Regions from separate parts of the Homo sapiens genome. Here region 2 is linked to region 1. Evidence: fine-mapped expression QTL. A gene starts in region 1. The other region holds a variant in brackets. All regions are shown on one strand. Distances are from middle to middle. Region 1 holds the start of PLEKHA2 (pleckstrin homology domain containing A2). Region 2 overlaps TACC1 (transforming acidic coiled-coil containing protein 1).

The links. PIP is the estimated chance that this variant, and not a neighbour inherited with it, causes the effect.
Region 2: its variant is fine-mapped to the expression of PLEKHA2 in whole blood (INTERVAL, PIP above 0.99).

What each region holds. Positions count from the first base shown.
Region 1 is chr8:38,899,096-38,904,471 of GRCh38, forward strand. PLEKHA2 (pleckstrin homology domain containing A2) reads left to right here and starts at 2,251. Exons shown (of 12, transcript NM_021623.2): 1 at 2,251-2,350. It overlaps LOC124901937 (a long non-coding RNA gene), which reads right to left and starts at 2,350. Exons shown (of 2, transcript XR_007060893.1): 1 at 2,118-2,350; 2 at 155-1,601. RefSeq lists enhancers at 663-852, 913-1,162 and silencers at 1,763-2,172, 2,253-2,922.
Region 2 is chr8:38,837,676-38,843,051 of GRCh38, forward strand. TACC1 (transforming acidic coiled-coil containing protein 1) reads left to right here. Exons shown (of 13, transcript NM_006283.3): 8 at 795-871; 9 at 2,549-2,592; 10 at 4,612-4,772. Among named protein-coding and RNA genes, the nearest start is that of TACC1, 53 kb to the left of the region's middle. The variant A/G (reference allele first, on the strand shown) is at 2,243.

The sequences.
Region 1 (5,376 bases):
AGGGCACAAGCCTGCTTCAGCCTTCTAGAGACACCTGTATTCTCTTGCCACCCAAGGCCTTCTGCTTCTCTTTGCCTCCCAGCATCCAAAACAGTAGTGCTCAGGAAATACTTGTGGCTCTGTGATGGAGTGACTCAGGCAGCCCCACGGGGAGTAGAGTTTTATGAGTTTAATATGAACCATACCCTGAAATCTGAGAAATTTACCTCATTGCTCATGCTGGAAACCCTCAGTTCCAGTCGGATTTGCTTGGAGCTGGATGGAATTGTGTTGCTTTTCATACTGAAAATGATCATCTAATTTTTAAATTTAAAAAACATTTACGTAGCACCTACTTCACGTTCGACAGGAATCTCAACACTTCACAAATGTTAACTCACTGACTTTTCCTAACAGAGGCATTGAGAAGTTAAGTAACTTGCCCAGGGGTCAAAGCCAGTAAACGGCAGAGCTGGGCTTCAAATCCAGGTTCCTTGCTTCCAGAGGAGATGCTCTTCAGTTTGTTCTGGTGCCTGAAACTTACAGATGAGTGGCAAAACCCTCCATGAACGGGGAAAAAAAAGACATTGATGTATTTATTTCAAGGGAAATGTGTGTGTGTGTGTGTGTGTGTGTGTGTGTGTGTGTGTGTGTGTGTGTTTTGCCCATCGTCCCCCTTTTCTTCCTCATTGAAAGCAAAATGCTCTAAAGCAAACAGTCTTTTTTCACACCTGAGACACCGGCGGTGTTCATTTTTGCTTTGGCAATCAAAATGGAAGAGGAAACTTGTGTGGTTTCATCACTGGTGCTTTCGGGGTGTGTGGGGCGGGCTGTCCTTCTCCCTCGGTCCTGGCTCATCGGCCCGAGCCCCCCTCCCCAGGCCTTGTGGCCTCCGGTCGGTCGTGGAGACATAAGAGGCCGCCTTTCCTCTGTTAACACCGGGAATGTGCCCCAGCCTCTCCCTCCTTCCTGCAAATCCAGTCCTTGTCCTGGAGAACCTCAGCGTCTTCTTATGCCTGCCTCTTTCAAAGCCTCGTAGGATTTACACCTGATTAACAACGTTTGCATTAGGATCGCCAGACACCGGCGCACGGCCCCGCAGGCCCGCGCGAATCTTCTACATTTTCATGTTTCGGATGTTGTCCACCTGACTTGATGCATATTCAAATGTCTCTCTCCCGACGTGGGAGGCCGGAGTCAGAACCTGACAGACCTGCCGTTTACTAACTGGGTACCCAGGGCAAATTACTTCACAAGTCTGAGTCTCGGTTTCCTCACCGTGAACCGGACTGGTACCCATAGGTTGCGGCGTGGATCAAATGAGATAGCGCAGGGGCGGGACCCGCGCACAGCAGCTCTCTTAGTTCCTCTTGGCGAGGTTTACGTAGTAACACATGCTTGTCTGTTTCCCATTTTTTCCCAGAGCACCCTCATGCTCTGGGGGCAGGAAGGGAGTCTTCGCATCACACCGAAAAAGTCCCAACGGGCACGGTGTAGGCGCCTGTGGTCCCAGCTACTCGGGAGGCTGGGGCAGAAGGATCGCTGGACCCAGGAGGTCGAGGCTGCAGTGAGCTATGACTGCGCCACCGCACTCCAGCCTGGGCGACAGAGCCAGACCCTGTCTTGATTAAAAAATAAAATAAAATAAAGAAATTAAAGTCCTTATAACCCTGGTTAGAGCGTTCCCGCCCACTGGTCTCTTAGGGCACATTTAGGACAACCTGAAGAAGCCACTCTTCTTGGGACCCTAACCCTTACCCCAACTCCTCGGTCCCCAAAGGCTAAGGGCTCGGGATCCGAAGGAGGCCCAGCTGAGGTCGCTGGGTGGGGCTCTGGGAGGAGGAAATGGGGTTCTTGAGGGAGCTCGCGCTCCAGCTCGCCTCCTCCTGCGAGGACGCCCCCTGCCCGGACACCTGCTGCCCGAGCGAGCGTCGGGGCCGGGCCTCCCCGCGGGGCAGTCTCGGCGCGCAGGTCCCACCTGCCAGGCGCGGAACGCGGGCGGCCTCGGGCGCAGCCTCCGGGCGCCCCGCCCCCGCCTCCCCCGCGCGGCCCCGGCGCCCGGCCGCACCCCCTCCCAGCCCGCGGCGCCCCGGCACCCCTCTCCCTCCCCGGCGGGCTCCGCGGAGCATTGTACTCACATCCGGGGCTGGGTTTTGCTTTAATGCGAAACGTAATTAACCCGGAAAAAAGAGCCGAGGGACGGGAGAGAAGGAGGGGGCACTGGGGGAGACCAGAGCGAGGGGAGCGAGAGGCGCGGAGAGTTTGGCAGGCAGACCCAGAAATCCCTGGAGCGCGGCGGACCCGGCGGCCGGAGGGGCGACCCCGCCCGATGTAACGCGCCCCGCCCGAGCCCCGGCCCCTGCACGGGGGGGTAAGTTGGGCGCCCTCGCGGGCTCGGGAGTGGAGAGGCGCAGAGGGGCGCGCGGGGGCTGGCGGGGCTGGGGGTGCAGGGGGCGCCCCGGCGGAGGCCTGGCGGCCTAGGGGCGCGAGGGGCGCGCGCGCAGGGCTGAATACGCCGGTCCTAGTGGCTGACAGGCGAGGGGAGGTGGCCGCAGACCCTGGAGGCCTCCTCCAACCCTCTGGGAGAGCCCCGAGGGCAGCCCCTCCTCCAAGTGCCCCGGGTGGCCAAGGTCGCCGCCGCCAGGGGTCGGGCTGCGGGGGGTGGGGCCGCGGAGAGGGTGGGGGCGGGAGTTCTGCTGAGCTGCATTTTCTCACGTTTGCAGCAGCGAAACTTCTCTGCGGGTTCTGGCGCTGGGGCACCGACCCCGCAACGACTGCCCGGGCTGCGGGAGGGGAGGAGAGCAGAGAACGTCCCCAGGCAAGTCCCTTGGGTACGGATTGGGCCATGGAGACTCCTCTTTCACTCCCCCGACTACCTTATTAAATGACAGGCCTAGAAGGCTCCCCTAGGGACTCCTGTCCTTTCCTCTGGGTGCAGCCTGGACTTCGGGCTTCTGGAACTCCAGACAGTGAAAAGGACTGCCCTAAAATGCAGGTTCGGTGCCAGGTTGGGTGAGCCCTCGAGGGGAGCTGTCGTTCTCTCTCTCACCAACTTCTTCCTCACCTTACACGCTTCCCTTTTCTCCTCCAGTCCTAAAGACGATTTCACCAAAATTTTTTTAAAAAGAAAGAGAAAAGAAGGGTGTGGGGGGGGGTGGTGGGAAGCTAGGCCGTTTAGAAGGGAAAAGTGTCCCTGCACGCCCAGAGAGGGGCGCAGGGCCCGCTGCGGCCGGAGCACCCTCACATCTCCTCCCCGGGGCCAGCCCTGCCCCCAGGCCCTAGCCTTAGGGTTTGGCTTCCTTCCTTCTTGGTGAACGCAGGTTCAGGATGTATCTTCCCCTTCTCATTCCTTCTTCCTGCCCGCCCCCTTTCTTTCTTTAGGGCTCCAAGTGGGGTTTTCAGAGGACAGTAAACGGCAGAGAAGAGGGAGGGGAGAGCACCCCACCAGAAAGCCAGCTGTGGCTCTGGGGGCTCTGAAGGCTGAGCTGTAGATGCACTTGGGGCTGAAGTCCCAAGATTGCACTAATGGTGTTCTTAATCTATCTGACCAAGTCCCATTTTCCCTTCTTTTGTCATTTTTTTTCTTTGGTTGCGAAGCCTTCCGAAACAGCAAAGCAAAAGATCTTGAAAGAATAGAAGTTTTTGCTTTCTATTTCAGTTGCATTCAGTTGACATGTATTATACATGCAAGGCAGTGATGAACAAAACACAACCCCTGTCTTTATTTTTTCTTTTTCCTTTACCTCTGGAGGGCTGGACCCTGTCTTTGGCGAGCTTACAGGACTTGTAAGCCCCCCACTTGTTTTGAGAAGCCAGAGTAAGCTTTTAGAAAGCATCATCATCATCTCAGACATTAGCCCTCTTCACCATGTGCCGCCTGAAGGCAGATGACTTTTGCACTATCAGAGGTCTAGCTTGTAGTCTAGATTATGGCCAGCCCAACGTATGACATGTACCAGGTGCTAAGTAAATGTTTATTGCATTAATGAATGAATGCAAACACATGAATTGTTTGCACTTGTCCAAATGGCAGAGAAAAGAGCAGTGTGGTTGTTCCTCAAACCTGTAGGGATTTGGTTCTCCAAGCTGGTACATGGGAGTTATTAGTCCGGATGTTGCCTTTACACCTAAGTATCCTTTGACCCTGTTTGTACATTACAGCATGCTTTCTACAAATTGTCTATGGCACTCCTAGTGGGGTTTTAGCTAGCTGGTAATGGGAGCCTTGCTCATTTCACAGATTGGTAATTACCTTGGTATTGATTGAGAAACTGCCTGCCCTTTGGTGAAGAGTTTTTGCAACCCTTTCTTTTTCCTTGTCATTGGTGCTTTCTTCTCTCTTCTGTGTTAAGGAAATAGGGCCTGCAGATCCCATCATGTCATGGTAGTGAGCTGAACCATATTCAGCTCGGTATTTTTGAGTGGTTAAAATAAATCTTGAAGACATGCAGGTTTTGGTTGGTGCAGGTTTTTGTTCTGCAGAAGTGGGAAGGGGAAGGCTGATGAGCCCTATCAGCTGAGCCCCAGAGCAGCCCTCCCACTACCTTGCCAAGTGTTTGCCGAAGTGCTAGGATACTAGGAAGACCCAAGCAGCGTTGGTCTCCTGTCCAATTCATGGGACAGATGGACAGGTGGGTGATGCCCCTGCTGAAAGGCTGGATGACTCAGATGAGAGCTTGCTGCAGACCACAGTGCATCAGAATATCTCTTCTGATTCACGGAAACTGCTGTGGCTCGACTTATTCCGGTTGTGATAGACCTAGGGCTTGGAAAAGAGGATCTGGGTGCTGGGACGTTGGGTTGCTCTGCCCCCTCTCTTTTTCCACCATGAACAGTTTGGGTTGCCTTACTTTCCGTTTTCCATCTGTCTCAGTGAGCTGGATGGGACTCCAGCAATCTAATCTGGTAGGCTTTGGAAAGGAAGGAAGGAAAGCAAATATTATAGTGTGTTGGCCTATGGGAAGAGAAGAACCCTGGCCCTGCCTGATATGAGCCCATTATTGAGATGGGGTATTGGACAGGCGGGGGAGATAGGGCAGCTGAGAGGTGGGAGGGATGCGGCCCCATCCTGTCAGTAGAGGAGGCCGGGGGTTGGTGTAGTGAGACCCTACTGTTCCTTCTGAAAGCCCCTTCCCTGCCCTGACCCCAGTTGACTGAAGTGATTTGTTATGCATTAAAGCCGGAATTGGGCTTTCTCACTGTGGAGGTCCCAGCCCTGCTGGGGCAGGGGCTCCTGATATTGCCCAGTGTGGGCAAAAGGCTTGGGGGCTTTGGCCCTGTGGTGTGCCTTTTGCCCACAGTGCCTGGTCAGCTGAGATGAAGAGGATGGGAAGCTGGGTCCTCTTGTCCTTATGCTCTTGAGAAGCACTGCAGTTAAAGTGCGAAGGCTGGGACTCA
Region 2 (5,376 bases), 61 kb before region 1:
GGTGCCTGATTACCTGAAGCACACAGGATACATCCTTCTATGTTCTTGAGATCCTAATAAATATAATGAAACTACCAATTAGGAAGAGAGCGGCACGGCCAGGGAAGTACAGTAAGAGGCTGCCCATGCAAGCCCAGCCCAGGGCAAATAGAGTTTGAGGCAATGAATTTAGAGTATTTCCTTCCAGTTAGCAAGAGCATCCCAAATATGAGCCTAGGTTCCAGGCTAACTAGCAAGACTCTACCCATAAGTGACGGATGCTATAGCTAGATGTAGCCAGCTCATCTGAGCCCCCTCCTTCTGACTCCATTTCTATGAAGCTGTCAGAAATCTCTATAGAAAGAGAATGTGTTGCTCATGCCAACTTCCAGTGGTCTGACTTTGTGGCAGTTTCACTCTGGTGGCCTGGCATCAGCCGTGATTACATGGCCTTAGTTAAGAGTGAATACCTGCCAATCAGATGGCTCTGTTCTTGGTGTCTGTCCCAGTCAGGGCCTGGCCCTGCAGAGCTGAGAGCTAGACCCTGGACCAAGGTAAAGTTCACAGAGGCTGTAAATACTACTTGGGATTTCTGAGAGATGTTCTACTCATCTTTATTCCCGTGTCTGCATCCCAGCATTCAGTGTGGCTTAGAATACACTTTTCCAAATGGTTACAAACATTTAATATTGAAGTTTATATTTCTAATATAGATTGAACATCTTGGGTTAGACCTGGTTGTGTGCTATTTCAGTTCCCAGTCTTAAATGCAAATTGTAATAGATTGGGTAAAACTAAGCTTTATTGTACTCTAGATAATTACTAAAGAGATTGAAGCAAATGAATGGAAGAAGAAATACGAAGAGACCCGGCAAGAAGTTTTGGAGATGAGGTTAGACTGGAGGTTTTGGGGAGGGGCTGGATACTTTTATGCACTGTTAGATTTGATACAGATGAAGTGATGACAGTGTTTGCTTGCCACAGAACCAAGTGTTGAGAGCTTGAGGGCTTTGCTGTTTGCACCTTGCTTTGTGATTGAGAATGTTATTTCAGGAGTTATTGCTAACCAGTTATTATATTCAAATACTGTAGTTTATCTTGGGTTGTTCAGAACATATAACATGTAAACAGAACCCACATAATTCTTATCTTCTTAGAACTGACAGAAATTTGTATCAAAATATCCATTTGGAATACAGAAAAATAAGATTTATCCAATGATAGAGACACTGAAATTCATAATACTACTTTTTTTTTTTTGAGGCAGGGTCTCACTCTGTCATCCAGGCTGGAGTGCAGTGGTGTGATCATGGCTCACTGCAGCCTCAACCTCCTGGGATCAACTGATCCTCTCCCCTCTGCCTCCCAAGTAGCTGGGACCACAGGCATGTGCCACCATGCCTGCATAATTTTTTTTAGAGATGAGGTCTCGCTCTGTTGCCCAGGCTGGTTTGTAACTCCTGAGCTCAAGCAATGCACCTGCCTCAGCCTCCCAAAGTGCTGGGATTGCAGGCATGAGCCACAGCGCCTGGTCCATAATACTTTTTAAAAATTAATTATGCATGAGAGTTTCAAATTACATAACCACCAAATAGATGATAGAAAGCTTGTTAACAAGAAACAAAATTGATTGACTTGAAATCGAAATCTTTTTATTTTTCCTCACTTTTAGAAAGGAGAGTTATGAGCCATGAAATGACTAAAGATGAAATCAAAGTAGAGAAGAAAAAAAGGCATAAATAATTCACACACAGTGTGGTCAACACTTGAATGATTAAAAAACATTTTAAGTATATCCCTCTAATTTGTTGCTCTTTTATTATTTGTCTTTTAAGCATTTCCTAGGTGTAAGGCCCTTTGCTGGGCTTGATGGAAAGGAAGGGACATTCCTGCTCTTAGAGAGCGGTAGCCATCCATAATAACCAACTTGGATATGACGTCAAAAGTGATGGGGGCACCACCATTGAGGGCAGGGGAGGACGTGATGCGACTCACAGAGCACCCAGCACCGGACTGGGTCAGAAGGACATTGTCATTCTTCACTAGAAGAAAGGTTAACCCAAGAGGTTGATCTTTAAAGTCTTTGAATAAGTGAAATACTTTTGGAATTAGGACACAAAATAAAACTTGTCACTGAATCAGAGGTAGAGTGTCTGAAAGGGTGGATTGACTCAGGAAAGTCTAAAGTCAGATCGCATCTGTTAGGAAGAGCCCAGAAGAATATCTTTAACTTAGTTTGTAAAAGATTGACTCATCTAAGCAG[A/G]ATGAATCTATTTCCTTGCAGTATTCAAATAGGTGCAAAGAGAAAGGGAAGGCAGTTGGTTCTATAAGTAAAATATAAGTTTGACTAAAGATAAAATCTTAACAAAAACCTTTTTAGAACCTTAAGAAACCTTATATAATGTAAAAAAAAAAAAAAAAAAAAGATAACGAGAGCCCCAAAGCAGATAAATGGATTACATACATTGTCAGTGTATGTTAATGTGTTTAATTGTTTGGGACAGCATTTCTCCAACTTTCATTGTCTGAAAATCCTCCTCTGGTAATAAGTTCTTTTTTTCTCATTTAGGAAAATTGTAGCTGAATATGAAAAGACTATTGCTCAAATGATTGGTAAGGAGAACATTTTGTTTTTTGAGGGTATGAGCCATAGGATCTGTCTTAGTCTGTTCAGCCTGGTATAACAAAATATGTAAGCTAGGTAGCTTATAAACAACAAACATTTTTCATAGCTCTGGAGACAGGAGAGTTCAAGGTGCCCACAGATGAGATGTCTGGGGAGGGCCCATTCCTCATAGAAGGGGCTGGCTAGCTCTCTGGGGTCTCTTTTATAAGGACACTAATCCTGACATAATCACCTCCCAAATTCCCTTCCATGCCCACTTTCACCCTGAACATACTCACACACTGGGGATTAGGTTTCAATACACAAATTTGGGGTTGGGGGGTGGCATAAACTATAAGACCATAGCCGGATCCATTTATGATTTTCAGACCATGTCACAAACTTGTATTTGTCTGTCACTTAGATACAGTCGTCTCATTATTCGTGGGAGGTATGTTCTGTAAAGTTGCTGCAAACACTGAGTTAGTGAATACTAAACACTGCTCCTGGCCTGGCATGGTGTCTCACGCCTGTAATCCCAGCACTTTGGGAGGCTTGGGTAGGTGGATCACCTGAGGTTGAGAGTTCGAAAACAGCCTGACCAACATGGAGAAACCCCGTCTCTACTAATAATACAAAATTAGCTGGGCGTGGTGGTGCATGCCTGTAATCCCAGCTACTCGGGAGGCTGAGGCAGGAGAATCGCTTGAACCTGGGAGGCGGAAGTTATGGTGAGCCGAGATCGTGCCACTGCACTCCAGCCTGGGCAATGAGCAAAATTCCATCTCAAAAAATAAATAAGTAAATAAACACTGCTCCTAGGGAAAAGACAGAGTTAGAGTCTTGCATCTGGCCACAACATTTTCATTGATTGATCAGTATATAACCTTGTTTTACGTGTGTTCCTGTTTAAAGACACCTTATTTAATATATATAGTTGATTCATTAACATTGAGCTCACAGTCAGCGGCACTTTGGCTCACGTCTGAACAGAGCTTCTGTAATGTATGTATTTTAAGGAACCTTACTGCCTTCTTGTGCTTGGTATCACTAGACAGCACTGTGGCACTGCCCTTGGAGGCCACTTAAAACAGTGAAGTCTCCGGCAAAAAGAACACAAGTGCAACAAACATGGCCTGAATAGACCAAAAGAAGAACACTTGTTTATAGAATGAATCAAGAAGGCAGAGTATTGCTTTGTTCACTGTCAGCTGAGAGCGTGCATATCAGGTGACTAAAGCATTTTTGCACTCTGCACACATCCACAAATGACTGTCAAAGTCCAGGAGGATAGATTTTAGGATTACAAATAAATTTTAGCAAGTAGGTGAATTGGGAGGTATGGACTTGGTGAATAATGAGGGTCAACTGTAGTTAGGTTCATTTTAGAAGATGGCAGGCCTTGAATTCTGTGACTGTTGGTGGCCTGGTCACATCACTAACACCCACTGGGAGCATCCTGTGTTTTGGTGCAGGGTTCTTACTCTAGTGCAGATTGTAATTTCTCTGCATCAGACCCAGCGGTGCCTTTACAAAACAACAGGGATTGATCCTCCTGCATGGAATTTAGAGTCTCTTCTCATCTATATCATAAGGATTGACTCCCTAAACCAGAGTCTGTCCTTTCTCCACTAAATTGCCGAAATGATACTTTCTATCATCCACATCACCTAATGCCTTCCCAGCTCAGGGCCTTACCACAGCTGTTCTTCTCTATGGAATATTCTCCCAGGTAGCTGTATGGCTCACATCCTCATTTCTGTCCGGTCTATGCTCAGATCTCTCCCTGAGAGCAGGTACTCTCTGTACAGTAACAGCCCCCTCCCCGCCCCCATTCCTCCTTACCCTGCCTTGTTCTTTCCCCATCACTTGTTACCACGCGTCTCCCCCAACTAGAGTATAAGCCATAAGAGCGGGAATTTGGTCACATCCCCGGCTGTGTCCCTACCACGAGAACACTGCTTGTCTTCTAAGGAGTGTCTATTTTTTGAATAAATATGTCATTCCTTTTGACTTGTGATTCCCAGAAGATGAACAAAGGACAAGTATGACCTCTCAGAAGAGCTTCCAGCAACTGACCATGGAGAAGGAACAGGCCCTGGCTGACCTTAACTCTGTGGAAAGGTCCCTTTCTGATCTCTTCAGGAGATATGAGAACCTGAAAGGTGTTCTGGAAGGGTTCAAGAAGGTAGAGTGTTTTTTCCCTCTGTCTCCTGGTGTATTTCCAGTAGTGTATTTCCTTGGTAACTGGTCATCAAATACATATGCCAGAGGTTGTGGGTATCCTTTTAAATAGGAGCTCAGGGCCTACTGGCCTTGTATCCTCTATTCCAGTGAAGCTGGATTTTTTTCCACATTTTTCCTTCTTTGGTTGTTCAGGCATCTGGCCCACTGGGTGCCATGTCTTGGCCATTCCTCTCCTGTGTCAAGCCAATAAGCCCCAGGCTGTGGCGTAGACTGCAAGAACTGTTAATTGAACCCTCAGACCTCAGGTGAATTCTAGAAATGTTCTTTCTGGTAATTCACCTTTTCAGTTTTAGTAAAAGGGATTAGAAGGAATTCCATGTCTCTGAAAAATTCAAGCTGCATATTCTAGAAGACATTAGTATAATGTTTCAAATTTAGATGTAAATGGGCCTGTTGATTTAATTTAACTTTACCATATCAACCAGACACAATTATAGCAATGAAATGGCTTTATTTTCATATTAAAATAAAAATGAAACTGGCCAGTTTATCAAATATGGAAATCGAATTGCCATTCAGTTTTGAATAACTGCCTTCCTAAAGTA